Homo sapiens: one gene and its partners. The protein of the gene in region 4 purifies or fractionates together with the protein of the main gene of each other region. This does not show direct contact. Each region holds a gene or a part of one and is shown on either strand. Other genes may lie near its edges. The genes, in order: NUP160, UTP20, UFSP2, CLSTN2, NUP43, NUP85 and MYCBP2.

Evidence for each region.
Region 1: the proteins of CLSTN2 (region 4) and NUP160 purify together in Homo sapiens (affinity purification with mass spectrometry; one large-scale study listed by BioGRID and IntAct). This does not show direct contact.
Region 2: the proteins of CLSTN2 (region 4) and UTP20 purify together in Homo sapiens (affinity purification with mass spectrometry; one large-scale study listed by BioGRID and IntAct). This does not show direct contact.
Region 3: the proteins of CLSTN2 (region 4) and UFSP2 purify together in Homo sapiens (affinity purification with mass spectrometry; one large-scale study listed by BioGRID and IntAct). This does not show direct contact.
Region 5: the proteins of CLSTN2 (region 4) and NUP43 purify together in Homo sapiens (affinity purification with mass spectrometry; one large-scale study listed by BioGRID and IntAct). This does not show direct contact.
Region 6: the proteins of CLSTN2 (region 4) and NUP85 purify together in Homo sapiens (affinity purification with mass spectrometry; one large-scale study listed by BioGRID and IntAct). This does not show direct contact.
Region 7: the proteins of CLSTN2 (region 4) and MYCBP2 purify together in Homo sapiens (affinity purification with mass spectrometry; one large-scale study listed by BioGRID and IntAct). This does not show direct contact.

The regions. Positions count from the first base shown.
Region 1 is NC_000011.10:47,782,351-47,785,850, reverse strand, and holds part of NUP160 (nuclear pore complex protein Nup160), read left to right. Parts: intron 1-787; coding exon 788-929; intron 930-2,652; coding exon 2,653-2,778; intron 2,779-3,500. UniProt on the Homo sapiens protein: Functions as a component of the nuclear pore complex (NPC). Involved in poly(A)+ RNA transport.
Region 2 is NC_000012.12:101,384,112-101,387,118, forward strand, and holds the end of UTP20 (small subunit processome component 20 homolog), read left to right. Parts: intron 1-1,471; coding exon 1,472-1,617; intron 1,618-1,856; coding exon 1,857-2,012; 3' UTR 2,013-2,507; downstream 2,508-3,007. UniProt on the Homo sapiens protein: Part of the small subunit (SSU) processome, first precursor of the small eukaryotic ribosomal subunit.
Region 3 is NC_000004.12:185,405,465-185,408,964, reverse strand, and holds part of UFSP2 (ufm1-specific protease 2), read left to right. Parts: exon of another isoform or gene 1-529; coding exon 530-694; intron 695-904; coding exon 905-1,029; intron 1,030-3,005; exon of another isoform or gene 3,006-3,108; coding exon 3,109-3,185; intron 3,186-3,500. UniProt on the Homo sapiens protein: Thiol-dependent isopeptidase that specifically cleaves UFM1, a ubiquitin-like modifier protein, from conjugated proteins, such as CD274/PD-L1, CYB5R3, DDRGK1, MRE11, RPL26/uL24, TRIP4 and RPL26/uL24.
Region 4 is NC_000003.12:140,564,685-140,568,184, forward strand, and holds part of CLSTN2 (calsyntenin-2 precursor), read left to right. Parts: intron 1-1,368; coding exon 1,369-1,569; 3' UTR 1,570-3,500. UniProt on the Homo sapiens protein: Postsynaptic adhesion molecule that binds to presynaptic neurexins to mediate synapse formation, and which is involved in learning and memory.
Region 5 is NC_000006.12:149,740,030-149,743,529, reverse strand, and holds part of NUP43 (nucleoporin Nup43), read left to right. Parts: intron 1-959; coding exon 960-1,140; intron 1,141-3,500. UniProt on the Homo sapiens protein: Component of the Nup107-160 subcomplex of the nuclear pore complex (NPC). The Nup107-160 subcomplex is required for the assembly of a functional NPC.
Region 6 is NC_000017.11:75,219,179-75,222,678, reverse strand, and holds part of NUP85 (nuclear pore complex protein Nup85), read right to left. Parts: intron 1-3,500. UniProt on the Homo sapiens protein: Essential component of the nuclear pore complex (NPC) that seems to be required for NPC assembly and maintenance. As part of the NPC Nup107-160 subcomplex plays a role in RNA export and in tethering NUP96/Nup98 and NUP153 to the nucleus.
Region 7 is NC_000013.11:77,058,095-77,061,594, forward strand, and holds part of MYCBP2 (E3 ubiquitin-protein ligase MYCBP2), read right to left. Parts: intron 3,208-3,500; coding exon 3,075-3,207; intron 1,533-3,074; coding exon 1,429-1,532; intron 313-1,428; coding exon 124-312; intron 1-123. UniProt on the Homo sapiens protein: Atypical E3 ubiquitin-protein ligase which specifically mediates ubiquitination of threonine and serine residues on target proteins, instead of ubiquitinating lysine residues.

The DNA of each region.
Region 1 (3,500 bases), on a different chromosome or scaffold from region 4:
TAGCACTTTAGAATTTGGAAGTTCTCTGACATTAGTTTTCAACCCCTAAATTAGCACATCAGAATAACTTATTAAAATACAGATTATGAGAAATCACCCTAGTCTTCTAAGTTAGAACTTCTGCATGATTCTAATGCTTGATCAGGTTTGAGAACCAGTGTTCTGAACCAGTTTCTTGTTTTAGAAATGCAGAAACAAAGGAGTTAAATGAATTATGCATTAATAGCCAAACAAATAACGTTCATTTACTAAATATGTTTGTTTACTAAATACTAAATACGTTAGTGGGAGAGGAATATACGAACCCAAGACATCTAGTTTCTAGTGCTATCCCCATAAGTCACATTAGCCCAAATAATATTTGTTCCCATTTAGCTATATTATTGATTCAGTTGTTAATTTCTAAAGTTTTCCTTGTAAGGCTGGGCATGGTGACTCCTGCCTGTAATCCCAACACTTAGGGAGGACAAGGTCAGAGGATCACTTTAGCTCTGGAGTTTAATACCAGCGTGGACAACATAGCAAGTCCTTGTCTCTACAAAACATAAACAAAATTAGCTGGGCATAGTGGTGCATGCCTGTATTCCCAGCTATTTAGGAAGCTGAAATGGGAGAATCTGGGGCTGAGGCTGCAGTGAGCTGAGATCACACCACTCCACTCTAGCCTGGGTGACAGAGCAAGACCCTGTCTGAAAAAAAAGTTTTCCTTGTAAATACATGCTTTGAATGGTACTCTAAATAGCTATTAAGAATCTGAAACTCATTAGTCATTTTTGTTTTTTTCAAGTGCTACAGATGAAGCATGGCGACTATTATCCACTTACCTGGAGAGGTACAAAGTCCAGAATAACTTGTATCACCACTGTGTAATCAACAAGCTCTTGTCTCATGGAGTGCCTCTGCCTAATTGGCTTATAAACAGTTACAAGGTAAACGGATTATAACTTGTACAGAGTAAGAACCCACTCTTTATCATTCTGGATAACTTCATGAGATGATTAAAAATATGGACTGATTGCAGTGGCTCATACCTGTCATGCCCGCACATTGGTAGGCCAACAGGGGAGGATGGCTTGAGCCCAGGAGTTTGAGACCAGCTTGGGCAACACAGGGAGACCCCATCTCTATTTAAATTTAAAAATATATAAAGAAAAAGAAAAAGATGGGGTGATAACTTATGGGAACATATTGACTTACGTACTTTGGGAAGCTTTTCATCATAGCTAAAACCATAAGAACAATTCAAATTCATTTCCACAGTACTACTGTGTATTTAGATTTGAAGTTTCATAGGTTAGTAATTAGGTTAATGACTCCTATTATATTCACTGAACAATGAGTTTATATTTAGAACAATGAGCATATGCATGACACAGGATTTACTCTTCATACCTCAAAAAAGTCACAGGAGTCGGTGGAGTACTTTTCAAATAATATAACACTATGGCTGGTCTGAGTGCCGTGTTGTTTACAACTAATTGAGCACAACCAGTTTCCGATTGGTTCCTTCTCCACTCCCACTGTTTCACCTATTAAAAATCAAAAACGGGTTCTTAGACTGTCTGCATCAGAATTATTCAGATGGCAGTCTTCTTCAAAATACAGATTCCTCATCCTAGACTTACAGAATCAGATTATCTCAGGCTAGGAGCCAGAAATCTACATTTTAAGAAGCTCCTAATTTGATTTTGATGCATGCTAAAGTTTGAGAACTTCTGCATCTGAACCACCGTTAGTAGGATAAGGAAAGAGAAAATCTAAAGCTTAAAATCAGGAAAGTTTTTTTTGGTTTTTTTTGTTTTGTTTTGTTTTGTTTTTTTTGTTTTTGTTTTTGTTTTTTTTTTAAGGTAGAAAGGAGGCCGGGCACGGTGACTCACGCCTGTAAACCCAGCGCTTTGGGAGGCCAAGGCAGGCAGATCACCTGAGGTCAGGAATTCGAGACCAGCCTGGCCAACATGGTGAAACCCCATCTCCACTAAAAATACAAAAATTATCTGGATGTGATGGTGCGTGCCTGTAATCTCAGCTACTCTGGAGGCAGAGGTTACAGTGATCTGAGGTTGCACCACTGCCCCCAAGCCTGGGCGACAGAGCAAGACTCTGTCTCAAAAAAAATAAATAAATAGGAAAGTAGGGAAGCCAGCTAAGATGGTAAAGGTAAGATTGTGATCAAATGGGAATATAGAAAGCATGCTTAATTAATAGAGCTCTTCCAAATAGAGACTTCAGATTTAAAGCTGGTGATTCTTTGAACTTCTTTTGCATTTGTCATTCATATATTTCTTATTATGTGAATATATTGTCACTTTAGTGTTCAGGAAAAGTTTGTTGACTTTACAACTGTGGAAACTGAAGTGGAGAGAAGTTAAAATATGTCTTAGGTCATAAAACAGGGGAAGAAGGCTATTTAACAGATAAGGGCCTCCCAAACTGCCTAGAGGTAACGGCTCTTAGGGATTTAACTTTTTTTTTTTCCTAACTCCCCAGATTTGTTATCAGCTCTTATCCTAAGATACAGATGAGTAAACCAAGCCACTGGTTTAATTATATTGAGAAATACAAATGTTAGGGAATCAGCCACTCAACATTCTTTGGTCAGTACTCAAGTAGGAGGGAAATAGGTACATATTCTTAATCACTGACTTTTCACAGAAGGTTGATGCTGCTGAATTGCTTCGTTTATACTTAAACTATGACCTTTTAGAAGAAGCTGTGGATTTGGTGTCAGAATATGTGGATGCTGTATTGGGAAAAGGACATCAATACTTCGGAATTGAGGTAGGCATATACAAATGGTCCCCAATTTACAATGGTTTGACTTACGATTTTTCAACTTTACAGTGGTTTGAAAGTGATGAACATTTATGAGAAACCATACTTTAAAATACTGATGGCCGGGCACAGTGACTCATGCCTATAATCCCAGCACTTTGGGAGGCCGAGGCAGACAGATCACCTGAGGTCAGGAGTTCGAAACCAGTTTGGCCAACATGGCAAAGCCCCGTCTCTACTAAAAATACAGAAATTAGCCAGATGCAGTGGCACGTACCTGTAATCCCAGCTACTCAGGAGGCTGAGGCAGGAGAATCGCTTGAACCTGGGAGGCAGAGGTTGCAGTGAGCCGAGATCATGCCACTGCACTCCAGCCTGGGCAACAGAGCGAGACTCCATCTCAAAAATAAATAAATAAATAAATAATAAATAAATAAAATACTCATACAACCGTTCAGTTTTTCAGTTGCAGTACAGTATTCAATAAATTACACAAGATATTCAACAGTGTATTATAAAGTAGGCTTTCTGTTAGATGATTTTGCCCAACTTTATAGGTTAACGTTAAGTGTCCTGAGCATGGTTAAGTAGGCTAGGCTAAGCCGTGATGTTCATTAGGTTAGATGTATTATATGTATTTTCAACCTATGATATTTTCAACTGATAGTGGGTTTATTGGAAAACAAACCCACCATAAGTTGAGGAACATCGGTATAGGCGCATATATA
Region 2 (3,007 bases), on a different chromosome or scaffold from region 4:
ATGTTTCTCACATAAAAGATGATGCTTTATCCTCAACATAGATTAAATAGTCAAAGAAAACTATGGTTCAGGGTAGTTTTAAACCTCATAGCACAATGAATAATAATGAATAATAAAATGTCATTACATTCTCATCTTAAAAATTATAGGCTGGGCGTAGTGGCTCACGCCTGTAATCCCACACTTTGGGAAGCCAAGTTGGGAGGATCACTTGAGCCCAGAAGTTCAAGACCAGCCTGGGCAACATGGCAAAACCCCATCTCTACAAAAGATACAAAAATTAGCTGGGTGTGGTGGTGCACAACTATAATTGCAGCTACTTAGGAGGCTGAGGTGGGGGGATCTCTTGAGGCTGTGAGGTCGAGGCTTCAGTGAGCCGTGATTGCACCACTGCACTCCTGCTTGGGCAACAGAGTGAGATACTGTCTCAAAAGAAAGATTATATGGCAAAAATATAAGTATTATCATTTTTATATGAAATAGTTTTAAAATATCATTTTAACATTTCTTCTTTTTCCTTGCCTGATACATTTCCCTCACTTATTCTAATTGTTGGTAATAACAGGTAAAGAGGGAACTGGGGGCAGGAAGGAAAGGAGGTAAAGTGAATGTTCAGAGTTTGAAAATAAAACAAATGAAGCAAATGTCAAAGCAAGAGCTTTTACAGTCCTACAACCTTGGGAGAAAGTTTCCTCACTCTTACAAAGGAAAAAGCAATGGTAAAGGTTGAGGCTGCTGACAAAAGCAGGTTCAGGTGTGCTTTGGTTCAACCCAGTCAACATTTAATGAGCATCTAATATCTGCCAGGCACTAGGGATTCAACAGCAGGAAAGTTTTCAAGAAGCTTGTGATCTAGAACAGATGTCCTGAGCTCCTGTGAAATTGAAATTGGGGGTTATTTGTATATAGGGGTGAGTGGCAGAGAAGGGTGGGAGAAATGGCTTTTTTGTCAACTTCACAAAGGAGGCTTTTGACACTCCCCCGCCAAAAAAAAAAAAAAAAAAGTTACTGTGGGCAGAGCTAAGCCTCTGTGACCCATCATGGATTAGAGAGGGAATCTCTTACTTTTCCCCCCATCTGCAAGAGCTCAACAGGTAAACAGAGGTAATTCAAAACGTTTCTGTCAAGGTCCCAAGTTACTTTAATGTCTTCAGGGCCAGGTTTCCGCTGGGAAGTGGGCCTCATGTTCTCTGATTTCTTATTGCATCCTGGGTGAGGTGGTGGCTGGAGTGCTATGTCTAGCATTGCTGGTTTCCCCATCCCAGGAACATAGAGGCTAGTTTTATATCAGTGTTTAATGTTGAAGTAACAGTGATAATGCTGCAAGAGTTGAAATTTTGTTTTGTTTTATTTGGGGTTTCTTGCCAGATCAGTAGCTGGATATAAATGTTGTACATATTGTTGATTTTGTTGATGTTCAAATGTGTCCTTTCCTACCTGTCTCTGATCATTACTCTTTGTGTGTGATTAGATCCTTTGCTGAAGAATCTATCCCAGGAAATCATAGAATTACTCAAAAAGCTGGTTGGGCTTGAGAGCTTCTCATTAGCCTTTGCCTCTGTACAGAAACAGGCTAATGAGAAAAGGGCACTCCGGAAAAAGAGGAAGGCCCTGGAGGTAAGTTTGCTCTTTGAAAATATGGCATGTTCACTGGACTTGATAACTACTAAGTGTGCATGTTTGTGTCACACTTACACTTAGGGAGGATCAAGGGTTTGAGCGGTTGGGGACTTTATAGCTGGGACTTCAGATTTTCTTTAATGAGCATGTGTTTTTTACATTTATTTCTGTATTTGATTCTTATTGGTTTAACATTTACTTTAAAAGTAATATAAAATTTCTATTCTCTTTTCCAGTTTGTAACTAATCCTGATATTGCTGCCAAGAAAAAAATGAAGAAACACAAAAATAAAAGTGAAGCAAAGAAGAGAAAGATAGAGTTCCTGCGTCCAGGATATAAGGCCAAGAGACAAAAAAGCCATAGCCTGAAAGATTTAGCAATGGTGGAGTAATGTCTCCCTGTGCTGATACAAGCATGAACTTTCTGGAATATTCTGCTAGTCTGAAATTACAGTAGGTTGTCTGGGGTAGGGGGGAGGCGTTTTTTTTTTTTTTTGAGACAAGGTCTCACTCTGTCACCCAAGGTGGAGTGCAGTGACGACATCACAGCTCACTGCAGCCTCAACCTGGGTTCAAGTGATCCTCTCACCTCAGCCTCCCAAGTAGTTGTGCCTCCTAGGCACACAACACTATGCCCGGCAAATTTTTTGTATTTTGTATTTTTTGTAGAAACAGGATTTCGCCATGTTGGCCAGGCTGGTCTCGAACACCTGGGCTCAACTGATCCGCCTGCCTCGGCCTCCCAAAGTGCTGGGATTACAGGTGTGAGCCACCCTGCTCAACCAGGTTTTATTATTTAAGTTAGTTAAACTTTGGATAGATTGTATAATATATAGTTTAATGTAATCATGCTCATATTTTTTAAATAAATAAAACACTATACTACTGCTGGGTCTTCACTGTTTAAAAAGCATGTGACACTAGTCAGAGTTTAAAATATAATTTGTAAATAAAAGGATACATTTTTAAATAGCAAGAAAAAATGTAGAAGTTAGCAATTAATCAAACAAAAGATTTGCAAATACTGCTCTATAGTACTTGCTAAAATTTTAGGAAAAGGCAGTAAGAAAGATCTGCACAAACGGAACTATAACCATGTTCTTGGCTAGGAAGATTCAGGATCATAAAACGCTACTTCTTTTTCCCAAGTTGATCCTTTGGTTAAATGTGTATCTGAGCAAAATCCCAAGAGTTCTTCACGTTAACCCAACAAGCTAATTCTAAAATGTATATGGAAGATGATATTAAGCCAAGAATAACCATGACACTCTCACAAAAGTAGAACAGGATGAGGGGCTTGCCCTATTGGATATCAAAAGTAAGACACAAAAACTATCTATAGAGAGAACGTGTAATAAATCCTACTTCATTAAGAACTTCTGCTTAG
Region 3 (3,500 bases), on a different chromosome or scaffold from region 4:
AGTATATCAAGTCATGATATACTTTGAAAAATAAAAACATAAAGAGGACAGAGATGACAGGTGAGGCAGGGGGTGGGGTAGTGAGAGAATGAGTGGGCCGTTTGTAGACTGGATGGTCAAGGAAGACCTTTGACATCTAAATGGAAACCTGAGTGAAGTAAGAGTGCAAGCTGTACAATTAATTTGGGAAAAGAGAGTTCCAGGCCAAGAGAACCATGAGGCTCCAAGGTCATATTGCCCCTGGTATATGGGAACCGAAAGTAGAGGGAGCAATAGGGAAAAGTTTAGGAGATGAAATTGGAGAGGAGGCCAGAAGGTAGGTCCTGCTGGGCCCTGTGGTAAGGACTTTGAACCTCAAATAAAAAGCCAAGAAGGTATAATGTTAAACCATAGATCTGTGAAGGCATTTTTATAAGGAACTAAAGTAACAGTCTAACTCTAAGAACATTAAACATAATTCGGGAGCATATATAGAATATGTACTTCTATCCTAAGTTAATATTTTACTGTGTTTCTTCTCTGTATATAGATTTATGTGGTCCAGGGCATATATGGCTATCATCATTATATGCAGGATCGCATAGATGACAATGGCTGGGGCTGTGCTTATCGATCTCTGCAGACTATCTGCTCTTGGTTCAAACATCAGGGATACACAGAGAGGTCCATTCCAACACACAGAGAAATTCAGCAGGTACAGAACATACCGTTTTAAATTATAATCAACTGTATGTTTCATTAGCCCTTAATATACCATTGATAATTTTTGTTACCTCATGGTGCAGACTTATTTCTGTTTTGAAGAAAAAAAAATTCTTGTACTGGTAATCAGGGAAAATGCCCTAAACATCGTTTTTAATAGCTGTCTTGTGTATGGATGTTTTATATTTTTAAATACATCAAGGCTCTAGTCGATGCCGGGGACAAACCAGCAACATTTGTCGGATCGCGGCAATGGATTGGATCTATTGAGGTGCAGCTGGTACTAAACCAATTGATCGGTATAACGTCAAAAATCCTGTTTGTCAGGTAAGCACACTTTAAGAAATTAGATAAATCATTTCAAAGTGACAGTCTGTCATTTTAATTAAAATAATAGAAAAAATGGTATCTTCCCTTATTTCTTTTTATTCCTTTTCCTTCTTCCTTATTACTCATTGCTTTATAAATCTCATTTTTTAATCTTAATTTTTTTTCATTTTTTTTTGGAAGGCTCTGATTTTATGAATAAACTTTGTGATGTAATGTATACTTGTATTATTTAGGCCTAATTTTAGCCTAGAAGAGGAAAACTTAAAAATATATTAACGTTGAGTAAAGTCATAAAAATTATATTAACAGTTTCTTTATGCTCCAATCTTTTAAAAAGTCTTAAAAGGCAAAACTCAAATGTTGAACTATGACTGACCTTTTTGTTTACCTCCTGCTCTTTTTCTTTCTAAAACGTTAATAATCTAGTAATGTGTTCAAATAATGTATTCATTTTGTCTTTTCCAATGATCTTAACCATAATTCTAATATTAAAATGAGAAAATATAAATTAATTATTTTCTATGACCATAACTAGCTGACTCCTGATTGTATGAGCTTATGTTTTAAAATACATTTTCTAGCCAGGTGCAGTGGCTCACGCCTGTAATCGTAGCACTTTGGGAGGCCGAGGTGGGTGGATCCCCTGAGGTCAGGAGTTTGAGACCAGCCTGGCCAGCAGAGCAAAACCCTGTCTCTACTAAAAATACAAAAAAAATTAGCTGGGTATGGTGGCGCATGCCTGTAATCCCAGCTACTTGGGAGGCTGAGGCAGGAGAATCGCTTGAACCCAGGAGGTGGAGGTTGCAGTGAGCCAAGATCATGCCACTGCACTCCAGCACAGGCAACAAAGCGAGACTCCCTTTCAAAAAAAAAAAACAGAAAAATACATTTTCTAAAAAAAAAAAAAAAAAAAAAGAAAAGCCAAAAAACAAATAAAATACATTTTCTATTGTTAATTACAGTAACATCGTCCTCATTGTATCTTTTATGTGTTAAAGATGTAATTTTATCCTTTCCTCAGTGGTTATGGAAATCAGTGGTAAAAAAATGACAGACTGGCTGGGCACAGTGGCTCACGCCTGTAATCCCAGCACTTTGGGAGGCCAAGGTGGGTGGATCACCTGAGGTTGGCAGTTTGACACCAGCCTGGCCAACATGGTGAAACCCTGTCTCTACTAAAAATATAAAAATGAGCCGGGCATGGTGGCACACGTCTGTAATCCCAGCTACTCAGGAGGCTGAGGAAGGAGAATCGCTTGAACCTGAGAGGCGGAGGTTGCAGTGAGCTGAGATCGCGCCACTCCACTCCAGCCTGGGCAACAGAGCGAGCCTCCATCTCAAAAAATAATAATAATATAAAACAATGACAGACTTAAGTAGTGAAGAACTTTTTTTAAAAGTTACAGTTTTGGTACATTAAAACATACGTTCCTCATTAAGCAAGAGCTAAGGTTTAGCACCACCGGGCACCTTCCCCCAAAAAATACCTCCCTTCATTATCCCATCTATCTTTCTCTTTTCAAAAGTAAAAATTCTGAGATTCCCTAAAAATAGTATGTTGCACTTGAAAACATTTTGCAGTTTTCACATTGATTTCACAGACATGTATTTTAGGCCTAGACTCTCCTCTGTTATGTAGACAGGTCAGCGTTTTGGGTCCCAATTTAAAGATGAGGAAATACAGACTAAGAAGTCTACCAGCAAGAAGGCAAGAACCCAGGACTTAACACTCATTCTTCTGATTAATCCATCCATAAGAACTCCCTGAGCACCAAGGTGATGTTTTAACTTCATGTTAAAAACCCAGGCCTCCTTTATACAGTTCAAGAAGCAGAAAATCAAGGTCTTTTAGCGTCTTATCTAGCACACTTGGTGGCCTTAAGTATTTTGAGTTTATGTTGCTTTAAATTGCACAGTTTAATTGCTCTCAGTTCCCTAACACTTAATTTTTTTACATTTATATATTTTTTCAGTAACACCCGAAAAAACAAGAAAGTAGGAAACATTGTCTCCTAGCTCATTATTTGACCGTAGTGTTGGAAGTAGTTCATCTGATAGAAAATGGTTTCTTTCTAGCCAAGGTTCAGAAATTGCCTCTCAAGGACGGGAACTGGCTAATCATTTCCAAAGTGAAGGAACTCCAGTTATGATCGGTAAGCTGTTTCAGACACTGTTTTTGGTAGAGTGAGTAATATGCAAAACTTATCATTGATATAAATATTTAATGTTGCATAAAATCAGTCATTTAAAAAATTTTGAAATTAACTTTTACACCATATGTATGGATCTCTGGATATTGAAAAAAATTTCTAAGGTGGCTTAAAGGTTACAAAAAAGATTATAATAACCAGAAGAAGTAAAGGCTGAGAAATGGTAGCTATGTTCAAACATTTAAAGAGCTGAGAACAGTATTAAAAAGAGGAAACGGTCACTCAGCTGAGCTTCGTAAGTCATGACTCTGTCATAAC
Region 4 (3,500 bases):
AATAAAATAGGAGTTATCATCTTCATTTACCAAGGTGGAAACCAACTAAGAAAAGAAGTAACATACTCAAATTAACACAGCCAATAGTCAAATTTAAGGTTATCTGATTCTGAAGTCTGTATCTTTCCAGTTAGCCAACAGCCCCCAGAATCTATCCATGAGTGTCAAAGGAAGCCCTCTACATCATGCCCTTTGCCCATGGGTTCTGGTTGATGATAGACACAGGCTTAGAAAAGGTAGGGGAAGATGATTACCCCAGCCTGGTCCCCAGTTTCCACCTCGGCTAGCCTCACACTCCAATTCCAAAGCCAGTGTGCTGATGTGGCTCAGTTCCTCCAAGCATGTGCTGTAGGTAAAATGCTGAGCTCAGTGCTATACAGACTCCAGAATTTCCACCTTCAAAGAGCTGAGCCTTGAGTGTAGAAAACAAGACCACTATACCTGGAGCAGTGTGAGGACAAGGCAAGAGTGTGCCTAACAAGGGCCAACCTTGTGATGTCAAAAGTCAATGACCTTGAGGAGGAAAAGCCTTCAGGACTGCAACAATCAGGGAAGATTCCTTGGAGGAGGTTGGCCTAGGGGAGACCTTGAAGAGTGGGTAGGATTTGGGGTAAGGTAGAAGGTAGGAGGTAAAAGACAATTCCTAAGAAGTGTAAGGGGAGGGGTTGGGTAGCCAAGCAAGGAGAAACAACTTTTATGACCTGGTTCATCAATGCAGAACATAAATCCAGAAATGAAATTTTGCTGGAATTATCCAAAAGCTGGAGGGAGGGGGAATTGGACTGGAAAGGAAGGGGTACAGCCTGAGGACACAAGTCAGGGGGTGAGCAGCAAGCATGGAAAGTGAGGACCAATAAATTTGTCCTTTCCAAAGGAATATTTTTGAGGGGAAGCATACCTGAGTCTTTGCTTAGAATGCCTTCTGCTCCCAGGGACATTGCATGCACACTTGGAAAAGAGACACAAGATCAAATGTCATCCTCTCACTGAGAAGCAAACACTAAGGCTTGGACAGCTCCATTTAAATAAGCTCCAGAAATGCCTGAAAACAAGCCTTGGCCTGAAAGGTTCAGTAAATGATGGATAGGATTGGCTAAAATGTCCAGCCCATCATTTATACCCAACAGTCTACCTTGAGTTCATGCCTTGGAATTTGCTATTTCAGGCTTTTGCCTTGAACCTTCTAGCTTCCTTTTTACCAGAAGACTTCCCTTCCAGGAAGTCTGTCTCCAGGCTGAAGAGTTTTGCACTAAAAGAAGAAATTCCAAGGGGCCGTAAATGTTTCCTTAATGGATGGAGAGACATAAGCTCCAAAATGGCCTCTGTTCAGCCCCTGATGAGCATTTGCTTTTTCTCCTTGATATCCAGAAACATGAAGGACCAGGGCATGGGGAAGATGAGACTGAGGGAGAAGAGGAGGAAGAAGCCGAGGAAGAAATGAGCTCCAGCAGTGGCTCTGACGACAGCGAAGAGGAGGAGGAGGAGGAAGGGATGGGCAGAGGCAGACATGGGCAGAATGGAGCCAGGCAAGCCCAGCTGGAGTGGGATGACTCCACCCTCCCCTACTAGTGCCCAGGGGTCTGCTGCCTGGCCCACATGTCCCTTTTGTAAACCCTGACCCAGTGTATGCCCATGTCTATCATACCTCACCTCTGATGTCTGTGACATGTCTGGGAAGGCCTTCTCCAGCTTCCTGGAGCCCACCCTTTAAGCCTTGGGCACTCCCTGTGTTTCATCCATGGGGAAGTTCCAAGAAGCCCAGCATGGCCATCAGTGAGGACTTCAGGGTAGACTTTGTCCTGTAGCCTCCACTTCTGCCCTAAGTTCCCCAGCATCCTGACTACCTGTCTGCAGAGTTTGCCTTTGTTTTTTCCTGCAGGGAAGAAGGCCCACCTTTGTGTCACTCACCTCCCCAGGCTCAGAGTCCCCAAGGCCCTGGGGTTCCAACTCACTGTGCGTCTCCTCCACACAGACCAGTAGGTTCTCCTATGCTGACTCCAGGTTGCTTCATACAAGGAGGGTGGTTGAACTTCACACACGTAAGGTCTTAGTGCTTAACAGTTTAAAGGAAAGTCCTTGTTGAGGCAGAACTAAGTTTACAGGGAAAGGTACACACATTCTCTCTCTCTCTCTCTCTCTGTCTATCTAGTTCCCCAGCTTGGAGAGCCTTTCCCCTTGCTTCTTTCTGAGGCCATATAAGCTTATAAGAAAAGTCCCAAACCAAGAATAGGTCCTTGGCCACAAGCAGGGTCTGATCCCCCATCAGAGCTATCTGAGCCTGCCTGTCTGGGCACCTGCTGCAACCATGCAGCTACCCTGCCAGGGGCACTCAGCAAACAGAACCACAGGGCCCAGGAGGCATTCCACACAGGCACTGCCCCAGGACAACACAACAAGGACAGTCACAACAAGGACAACAAGGACACAACACAACACACAACAAGGACAGTCACAACAAGCCTAGAGCCAGAAAGCAGATGGAAATGCTAATGAGGTCAAACGTAGGCTTCATGGTGGGTGGAGTGGGGGTGGCTGGGCTCCCCCAGGACAGAGGGGACCCTGAGGTTGGCAAGGCTCTCACCACTCAGCCTTATGGTCCCTTATCTCCTATCTTCCCTCTTGAGAAAATACACGCTTTCTGCATGTATTAGAAACGCACGAGCTCCACCAAGTCTACAATGAAAGTTTGAAATTTAACTGCAAGGAATTAGAAGCATATTTGCAATCATTGCAGCTTCTTCTTTCTTCTGCTCATAAAAGGAGGAACACTTTAGATAGAGGGCAAATATATCTGAAAACCTAATTTCTTTCTTTTTTTGATAAGGAAATCTTTTCCATCTCCATCCTAACATGCACAACCTGTGAAGAGAATTGTTTCTATAGTAACTGGTCTGTGATCTTTTGTGGCCAAGAGAATAGCAGGCAAGAATTAGGGCCTTGACAGAATTTCCACGAAGCTCTGAGAACATGTTTGTTTCGAATGTCTGATTCCTCTTTGTCATCAATGTGTATGCTCTGTCCCCATCCTTCACTCCTCCTCAAGCTCACACCAATTGGTTTGGCACAGGCACAGAGCTGGTCCCTAGTTAAGTGGCATTTATGTTAAAAAAAAATAGTTCAGAATCTCAGCCTTTTCTTTGTGTCATCAAAACAGCTTAAGAAGGGGACTACTGCCAATGTCCTCTAGTCTGACCTCCACCCAGGGAGGACCCATGGCAGGTCTTTTCAACTTTCTGATTCATGAGAACAACCTTGTGAAGCTTTTCCCACCTCCTAAAGTGTTTTCTGCATCTGTTCCTTCCTTTGGACCTCACAACAAATCCTGTGAAGTAACTGAGACATCTGTTGTTAGATACATTTTTGTGATGAGTAAACTGAGGCTTCGTGATTCAATGTCTTGTTCAGAGTCATTCAAAAGTATAGACAAGACCAGTCTCCCCAACTTCCACTCCTGGTGCAGGATTCTACTTATGTTCATAGGTATGCACCTAACAGACACT
Region 5 (3,500 bases), on a different chromosome or scaffold from region 4:
TCCACCTTCTGAGTTCAAGTGATTCTCCTGCCTCAGCCTCCCAAGTAGCTGGGATTACAGGCACGTGCCACCACGCCCGGCTAATTTTATATTTTTAGTAGAGACGGGGTTTCTCCATGTTGGTCAGGCTGATCTCACCTGACCTCAGGTGATCAGCCCTCTTCGGCCTCCCAAAGTGCTGGGATTACAGGTGTGAGCCACCGCGCCCAGCCAAAGGTAACCTTTTCTAATAGACATGCCTAGTTAATATAAGTCCCAGTTCATGTTAAGGGTTTTTTTGAGTCATTTAGAAAAAGCTATAGAGATTAATATTTTATTTATTTTATTTTATTTTATTTATTTATTTTTTTTTTTGAGACAGAGTCTCTCTCTGTCACCCAGGCTGGAGTGCAGTGGTGCGATCTCTGCTCACTGCAACCTGCATCTCTCTGGTTCAAGCAATTCTCACACCTCAGCCTTTCAAGTAGCTGGGATTACAGGCGCGTGCCACCACACCTAGCAAATTTTTGTATTTTTAGTAGAGACGGGATTTTGCCATATTGGCCAGGCTGGTCTCGAACCCCTGATCTCAGATGATCTGCCTGCCTTGGCCTCCCAAAGTGCTAGGATTACAGGCATGAGCGACAGCCGTGGGCCAGATATGTATATTTTAGATGTAGGTTAATTCCCATAAGAATACAAAGAGTTGCCTTTGAACATCCAACTGCTTGATCCCTAAAAGTCATTACTGTAGTTTGAGATAAATGTGGGGCATTATTAAACAATATTCCTTTTGTATCTAATTCAGTGTATATAGAACTTTGATGGCAGTAGTTTCTAGATTTCATTATTCTAAAGGAAAAAGGAGAGATTTATTCTTGTAGAAGGGTGTGAGTCAGAATTTAAAGATACTCTTGTTGGGAAGAAGTGCTAATTCCTTAGTACTTTGCTTTAATAGTATCCTCATTTCTGATGCCTAGACTCTGTCAGTCAACCAGCAGTGGACTACAGCTCACTACCACACAGGCCCTGGCAGTCCTTCCTATAGCAGTGCACCATGTACAGGTGTTGTGTGCAACAACCCAGAAATCGTTACAGTTGGAGAGGATGGTCGAATAAATCTCTTCAGAGCTGATCACAAGGAAGCTGTAAGAACCATAGGTAAGAAAAATCCCAGCCTGGCCAACATGGCGAAACCTAGTCTCTTCTAAAAATACAAAAGTTAGGCTGGGTGTGGTGGCTCACCCCGGCAATTGCAGCACTTTGGGAGGCCGAGGCAGGTGGATCACCTGAGGTCGGGAGTCCGAGACCAGCCTGACCAACATGGAGAAACACCGTCTCTACTAAAACTACAGAATTTGCTGGGCATGGTGGCACATGCCTGTAATCCCAGCTACTTGGGAGGCTGAGGCAGGAGAATCGCTTGAACCTGGGAGGCGGAGGTTGCAGTGAGCAGAGATCGCACCATTGCACTCCAGCCAGGGCAACAAAAGTGAAACTCTGTTTAAAAAAAAAAAAAGAAAAGTTAGCCAGGCGTGGTGGCGCATGCCTGTAATCCCAGCTACTCAGGAGGCTGAGGCAGGAGAATCGCTTGAACCTGAGAGGTGGAGGTTGTGGTGAGCTATGATGGCACTCTGCAGTCCCACCTGGGTGACAGAGGGAGACCCTGTTTCAAAAAAAGAAAAATCATTGTACTCCTTTCATCCATCAGAGTAATTGAGCACTTACCATATACTAAGTAAATACTGCCAGGCACGGTGGCTCATGCCTGTTACCCCAGCACTTTGGGAGGGTGATGCAGGCGGATCACAAGGTCAAGCGATCAAGATCATCCTGGCCAACGTGGTGAAAATCCGTCTCTACTGAAAATAACAAAAATAAGCTGGGTGAGGTGGTGTGCATCTGTAGTCCCAGCTACTCGGGAGGCTGAGGCAGGAGAATCACTTAAACCCGGGAGGCAGAGGTTGCAGTGAGCCAAGATTACACCACTGCACGCTAGCCTTGTGACAGAGAGAGACTTCATCTAAAAAAAAAAAGTAAACACAATGTTAAGTGATGGAGGGATGTAAAAATATATGGCCGGGTACAGTGGCTGACGCCTATAATCCCAGCACCTTAGGAGGCAAAGGCGAGCAGATCATTTGAGGCCAAGAGTTTGAGACCAGCCTGACCAATATTGCAAAACCCCATCTCTACTAAAAATACAAAAATTAGCTGGGCATGGTGGCACAGGCCTGTAATCCCAGCTGCTTGGGAGGCTGAGGCATGAGAATCGCTTGAACCTGAGAGACTGAGAGGCTGCAGTGAGCCGAGATCATGCCACCGCACTCCAGCCTGGGTGACAGAGCAAGACTCTGTCTCAAAAAAATATAAAATATATGTACACATGTGCACACACAACGCAAGGCAGGATCCCTTTGTCAAGACAGTATGTTGATGAGACCAGTATGAATGACTGACTAGAGGAAACAGAAACCTTTTTTTTTTTGGTGAGAGGGCATTATCAGATAAAACATCTGGAAGCAGGTAGTAATTAATAGTTTTTCTAGGTTCTAGACCATAAGTAATACTAAAAGATGGCGTGCTAGACAAAGGGAATAGGCCAGAGGCAGGATAAAGACATTCAGAGAATGACAAAAAGTATAGTTTGACCCGACTTTAGATATTTATTTAGGAGAGATGAAAGATGAAGCAAGAGAGAAGTAAGCTGGGGCCAGATTGCAAAGAGTCTGTAATGCAAAATCACAGAAGTTACATCTTTTAGGTGGAAAACTAAGTGTATTGGTTCTGAACTATGCTTCAGCCAGACTTCTCTGAGGAAATTTTTTAACTGTCGACCACTCTAGACCTTTTAAATCAGAATCTCTAGGAATTGAGCCCATGAATCCATTTTGTATGTGTGTGTTTTGTTTGTTTGTTTGTTTAGATGGAGTCACGCTCTGTCACCAGGCTGGAGTGCAATGGCACGACCTCAGCTCACTGCAACCTCCACCTCCTGGGTTCACGCGATTCTCCAGCCTCAGCCTCCCGAGGAGCTGGGACTACAGGCGCACGCCACCACACCCACCTAATTTTTGTATTTTTAGTAGAGACAGGCTTTCAACATGTTGGCCAGGATGGTCTTGATTTCTTGACTTTGTCATTCGCCTGCCTCGGCCTCCCAAAGTGCTGGGATTACAGGCGTGAGCCACTGTACCTGGCCTTTTGTGTTGTTTATTATGATTTTCATTTCTGAGTTAAGTTGCATTACTTTTTTTTTTTTTTTTTTTTTTTTTGAGACAGGGTCTTGCTCTGTCACCCAGGCTGGAGTGCAGTGGCATGATCCCAGCTCATTGCAACCTCTGCCTCCCAGGTTCAAGCGATCCTCCCACCTCAGCCTTCCAGGGATGTGGGACTACAGATGCACACCACCATGCCCAGCTAATTTTTGTAGAAACGAGGTTTCACCATGTTGCCCAGGCTGGTGTCAAACTCCTGGGCTCAAGTGGTCTGCCCACCTCGGCCTCCCGAAGTGCTGAGAT
Region 6 (3,500 bases), on a different chromosome or scaffold from region 4:
ATCGGTTATATATTGATTGGTTGAACAAAATATGACCAGAGGCTTGCAGGAACCTAACCCTGTATTTCCCCTAGGAGCAATGGTTCAATATTCACTAATTCAGTATTCAAGGCACTGCACTCCAGCCTGGGCAACAAGAGCAAAACTCTATCTCAAAAAAAAAAAAAAAAAAAAAAAAAAAAATCACAAATATATAAACATATACATACTGATAACTCCCAACTTTTCCTCTCTAGCCCAAACTTCCTTGTCTGAATTCCAGCTTTGTATATCCAAGTGCCTAGTCAACATCTCCACTTAGATCTTGAATAGGCATCTTAAAACGTAACATGTCGGACAGGCATGGTGCCTCACGCCTGTAATCCCAACACTTTGGGAAGCCAAGGAGGGTGGATTGCTTGGGCCCAGGAGTTTGAGACCAGCCTGGACAACATGGCAAAACCCCGTCTCCACTACAAATACAAAAATTAGTTGGACATGGTGGCACGCCTTTGTAGTCCTGGCTACTTGGGAGGCTTAGGAGGGGAGGATCACCTGAGCTTAGGCGGTCAAGGCTGCAGTGAGCTGTAATCTGACCACTGCACTCCAACATGGGCAACAGAGACTTTGTCTCAAAACAAACAAACAAACAAACAAAACAAAACACACACACACACGAGAGAAACATGTCTAAAATTAAATACCAGTTTGCCTCCAATTCACCAACCTTATCCTCCCACATTCTTCTATTTCTTGCATGCCCACATCAAATCAATCCATCAGCAAACCCCATCAACTCTCTTCAAACATATCTAGCCTACACCACCACCATCTTTTACCTGGCTTAGTACAGCAGAATCCAGACTGGCCTGTTTCCATCCTTGCTGTAGTCTCAACATGGCAGCCAGGACAGCCTTTGGGAACCTAAGTAAGATCTCAGGCTTCCTCTGCTCAGCTCTCCAATGCCCCCTCACCCCATATGGCTTAGAAGTAAAAGACTAGCTTTTACTGTGCATCAACCGTGTCAACTACTTCACCCACATTTATGTCCTTTAACTAATTTAATGATCACAACAGCCCCATGGGACAGGTATTATTATCTCCACTGGACAGATGAGGACCCTTAAGGCCGTTAAGTAGCTCACTCAAGATCTCACACCTAGTGACCGGGCACAGTGGCTCACACCTGTAATCCCAATACTTTGGGAGGCCAAGGCAACAGGACTGCTTGAGGCCAGGAGTTCAAAAAATAAAAAAATTTGGCTGGGCATGGTGGCTCAAGCCTGTAATCCCAGCACTTTGGGAGGCTGAGGCAGGCGGATCACTTGAGGTCAGGAGTTCGAGACCAGCCTGGCCAAAACAGCAAAACCCCATCTCTACTAAAAATAAAAAAATGAGCCAGGCAGGATGGCGAGAGCCTATAATCCCAGCTGAGATCGCCCCACTGCACTCTGGCCTGGGCAACAGAGTGAGACTCTGCCTCAAAAAATAAATAAATAAAAATAAAAAATAATTGGGTTAGCCGGGCGTGGCGGCTCACGCCTGTAAACCCACCACTTTGGGAGGCCAAGGCAGGCAGATCACAAGGTCAGATCGAGACCATCCTGGCTAACATGGTGAAATCCCGTCTCTACTAAACAAAATTAAAAAATTAGCCAGGCGTGGTGGCAGGCGCCCGTGGTCCCAGCTACTCGGGAGGCTGAGGCAGGAGAATGGCATGAACCCGGGAGGCGGAGCTTGCAGCGAGCCGAGATCGTGCCACTGCACTCCAGCCTGGGCAATAGAGCGAGACTCCAGCTAAAAAAAAAAAAAAAAAAAAAATTGGGATGGTGGGATGGAGGGAGGCAGGCAAATCACTTGAGGTCAGGAGTTCAAGACCAGCCTGACCAACATGATGAAACCCCATCTCTACTAAAAATACAAAAAACAAAACAAAACAAAACAAAAACCAGCTGGGCATCATGGCGTATACCTATAATCCCAGCTACTTGGTAGACTGAGACAGAACTGCTTGAACCAGGGAGGCAGAGGTTGCAGTGAACTGAGATAGCGCCACTGCACTCCAGCCTGGGCAACAGAGAAAGACGCCATCTCAAAAAATAAATAAATAAATAAAAACTTTAGCTGGTGGTGGTAACACATGTCTGTGGTCCCAGCTACTTGGGAGGCTAAAGTAGGAGGACCACTGGAGACCTGGAGGCCAAGGCTACAGTGACTGGTGATTGTGCACTGCAGCCTGGGGAACACAGTGAAACTGTATTTAAAAAAAAAAAAAAAGGCCAGGCATGGTGGCTCATGCTGGTAATCCCAGCACTTTGGGAGGCCAAGGTGGGTGAATCACAAGGTCAGGAGTTTGAGACCAGCCTGGCCAATATGGTAAAACCCCATCCCTACTAAAAATACAAAAATTAGCTGGGCATGGTGACGCGCGCCTGTAGTCCCAGCTACTCAGGAGGCTGAGGCAGAAGAATCACTTGAACCCCGGAGGCAGAGGTCGCAGTGAGCTGAGATGGCGCCACTGCACTCCAGCCTAGGTGACAGAGAGAGACTCTGTCTCAAAAAAGGAAAAAAACCCACCTCACAGCTAGTAAAAGGCAGAGCTGGAATGCTAACCCAGGCAGTGTGGCACCACAGACCATGTTGTTAGTCACCCTGCTATGTAGGCTGCAAAAAGCTAAAGTCTCAGTGACAGCCCAGGGGGCTGTCTCAGACCTGGCCTGGTATCGCTCTGTCTTTATCTCCCCAGCTCATCCCTCCCACCTACCCCTACATAGCACAGCCCCTCCTGCCCCACCCTGGCTCTAGAACACAGCATCTACAGGCCCTGCTATCTGGAATGCTTTCTTCAGCCTAGCTCTCCTCACCTCCTTCAGGTCTCACCTCCAATCTCTCATGAGGGAGGCCTTCTTCGATGCCCCTCCAGCACTTGCAGCCTCCCTCCCTTCTTGGCACCTTGGCAGAGCATTTCACTATGTGCCAGGATACATGGTACTAGCCTATGTGTTGCTGTTCTTTCTCCACACACAGGATATAAACTCCATAAAGGCAGGAATCTTTGCCTGTTTTAGTCATGGTGTCTCCTTGGTGCCTTGCAAATAGTAGGGACTCAATAAATACTCAGTGAATGACCAGGAATGGTGGCTCACACTTGCAGTTCCAACACTTTGGGAGGCCAAGGTGGAAGGATTGCTTGAGCCCAGGAGTTCAAGACCAGCCTGGGTAATACAGTGAAACCTCACCTCTACAAAAAATAAAACTAGCCAGGCGTAGTGGTGTGCGCCTGTAGTCCCAGCCACTCAGGAGGCTGAGGTGGGAGGATTGCTTGAGCCCAGGAAATCAAAGGTGCATTGTGCCATGATCGCATCACTGCACTCCCGCCCAGGCCGCAAAGCGAAACCCTGTCTCTAAACGACAACAACAAACCTTAGCGAATCAATCAGAGACTCAAACATTTGGCCCACTACTTCCTGTGAGCCACCGTGCCGGGCCGAATTCCAGGTTTTCTTTTCTTTTCTTTTTTT
Region 7 (3,500 bases), on a different chromosome or scaffold from region 4:
CTCCCAAAGTGCTGGGATTACAGGCATGAGCCACTGCGCCCGGCCTCAATCAATGTTTATTTGACAAATATATTCCCCATCTTAATGTCTGGATACATTCAATACTTTAAAAGCTGAGGCAACCTGAATGGCTGGTGCTGCCGAGAGCGCTTCGGTGAAACATATCATGCACATGTCATCGGCGTCTTGCTTCAGGCTTGTGGCACTTTTGTCACAGCCGTGTAGACAGGGCAGACAGTGCTCTTCGTTTTTAACACCCCCGCATGGATGGCCACAAGGATGCGTCTTACTACAGGCTATCTTAGCGTATTCCTGTTAAAGATGAATTACAATGTTACACAAGTATGTAAAAAAGCACACATTCTGGTAATTTTCCTTATTATATAAATTTCCAAAGATTACTTTCCCACAGGAAGTATCTATGCAGGCCAAGTAACAACAAAGTAAAGTTATTTCTAATCTTTGTTTGAATATAAATTAGGCTTCTTAACAAAGTTTTTTTTTTTTGATGCGATTTTTAAAAAATGCCACTCTCTATAAAGGGAATGCTGATAAGTGAATTATAATTTCATATTTGTCATCATGCACAGCTATAAAGCAAAAAGTTCCTGGCTGGGAGTCGTGGCTTACACCTGTAATCCCAGCACTTTGGGAGGCTGAGGTGGGCAGATCACGAGATCAGGAGTTTGAGACCAGCCTGACCAATATGGTGAAACCCCATCTCTACTAAAAATACAAAAATTAACCAGGCATGGTGGCGCGCGCCTGTAATCCCAGCTACTTAGGAAGCTGAGGCAGGAGAATCGCTTGAACCCGGGAGGCGGAGGTTGCAGTGAGCCGAGATCGTGCCACTGTACTCCAGCCTGGGCGACACAGCCAGACTCCGTCTCAAAAAAATAAAAAATAAAAAAAGTTCCCCAATGTATAATTTCCCAGTCACCACTCTCCGCATCACCAAAATGCAGATTTTTTTTTTTTTTAAAAAGGTACCTTTGACTCTCTGAGCATATCCACATTCTTATTAATTGAGAAACCAAAAACATTTGGACAACATAGAATATGTTTATATATGTTCAGGATTAAAGAACTCTTAGATGTTGAAAATGTATTTTAAGGAAATAAGTGAATAATGTCTGTAAGAGATAAAGGAAATACAGTTCATAAATTTTTAACTGTTTCTAGTACAAAAGTAGATATTAAATACATATGATCATGGTAACTGAGAAACATACAAAAAGAGTGTGGTTTGGGCTTGAGAGCCTTATTTGACCCATTCTTCAACTTTGGTAAGGCATTTGATGCTTCACATAGGTAATACACTCATTTAGGAAGCTGGAGTGACGCTGAGCTAAAACTCTTTTCTGTATGAAGTAAAGGTGTCACAGGGGAACATGGACAATGGGATGGCCTGTGTCACTATATACTCACCTGGCAATCTGCATCAGAACAAACACTGCCAACAGCAGATAACTCTGTTCCACTCCTGGAACCACAGAAGCGACATGCTTCTGAGCTACTCGTGGTGGGTTTGCCTAGGTTCAAGCAGAAAAATAAAAATCCTTCTTATGGATGTTTTCTAGATATGTTAACAGAACTAAATTTTAAAAAGCAAACTAGGTTTGTATAAGTTGCTATCCTTGGGAAATCAGCCTGACAGTTTTAGAACGGAAGGTTTCTAAGTTGTCCTAATTATAAAGTAAATAATGACACACAAAAAAAGAAATTAAAGACCTATCTGAAGCCAAATACACTCTCGACTAATATTTTTTTTCAGTGAAAGAAACAGACTAGACTTCTAGTCAAGTTACCAGACTGAGCAGCTGTTACAAGCCCCTGACTCCAAATGCACAATACCATAAAAAATATGATAACCAAAAATTAAATAAAAATACACAGAAGTTAGGGAAATCTTTAACTATATATAACAAAATTATAAGGCATGGTATAAAGCCTATCATCAGAGTATGAAACTTGAAAAACAGAATTCCTACCTCAGGAACTCTGCAATTTGAAAAGGAATTTAAATATGTTTGAAATACTTAAAGAAGAAACAGAATCAATAAAACAAGAACAGAGCAATAAGAAAAAGAACGTGAAGATTTGAAAATTACAGACCAAGCTGATTTTTAAACACAGATATAAAAATCTAACTATAATTAATATCAATATATTGAATTCAGCAATATTTACAGAAAAATCTATTTAAAAAGGATGGTTTACAAGGATGGTTTGACATTAGAACATTTATTAATGCAGTATACAGCACTGACAGATTATAGGAGGAAGAAATCAACTATGAGAAAAGAAGGTCATGCTCTTGCAGCATGCAAAGTCACCCTAGAATTAAATTGATTCGGATTTACACCTAACTCCAACACTGGAAGTTCGTGTCAGTCAAATGGCAGACTGCAGATGTGCTGAAAACTGAGAATTTGTAAGATTCAACATAACTTTGAACTAGGAATATACAAGATTTACTTTAGAAAAGCAGCAAAATGAAAACTATGTTTTAGAGATAAAAATACATTTAACATACATAGGTTACCTTTTGTTTTATGTCTATTCATTTTTGTTAATTATTTTATTGCTATCAATGGAAACAGTACCATTCACAACACCTTCAGAAGCATTAGGTCTACAAAAACCTCTAAATATCATAAAATCATACAACCTTATAATAAATAGAGATCTTAGTGATCATCTAGTGCAGCAATTTTTATTGTGGGGCAACAACTAGCAGAACTAGAAGGGAATTATCAATAGAAATGTATTTTATCTATGGAGCCCCATTAGTTGTGATCCTCTCACTTTATAAATGAAGTCAATGAGTTCCAGAGGTTAAGTGACTTGCTCGACACCACACAGCTAGTTAGTGGCAAATCAGGTTTCTTGACTTTTGGTCTAATGCTCTCTTCACCATAGAACACTCTATATATTTAGTAAATATATAGATCAATGATGTCATAATTAAACATCAGAATATCACTCAAAATTATTCACAGTTTAATCAGTTGGCACGGTTTAATCTTTTTTTGTGGGTTTTAAAGGCATGGCTCAATCTTTAAACCTTTTACCTGTGTGTTCTCGGAATTCCACCATTGCCTTCATTGTTTTAGAATCTGCCAGTGCCATCAACCAGAACAATTTGGTTCTACCACAACCTTCATGAAGGTCAACCTTTATAGCTTCTTCTTCTTCTTTGAAGACCTATTATTTCATTAAAGAACAGGGAAAAATATGCTTATTTATCACTCTGAAAGGGAGAGTATAAAATTTAATTATTCAATAATAATAATGGCTTTCATTTAAGCACTCTAAGAAGTTTTGAATATTTCCAATCTTCTCTTTAATCTTCACAGCAGTCCCTTTTTTATAAATGGAGAAATTAAGTGTTTCTAAGGATAAAACAACTTGCTATTTATAGATGGTAAGCGAGACAGCTGTGAACTCAACCAAGGTCTTTGATTCCAAAGTCCACTTTTTCCCCCTACTACACAAAG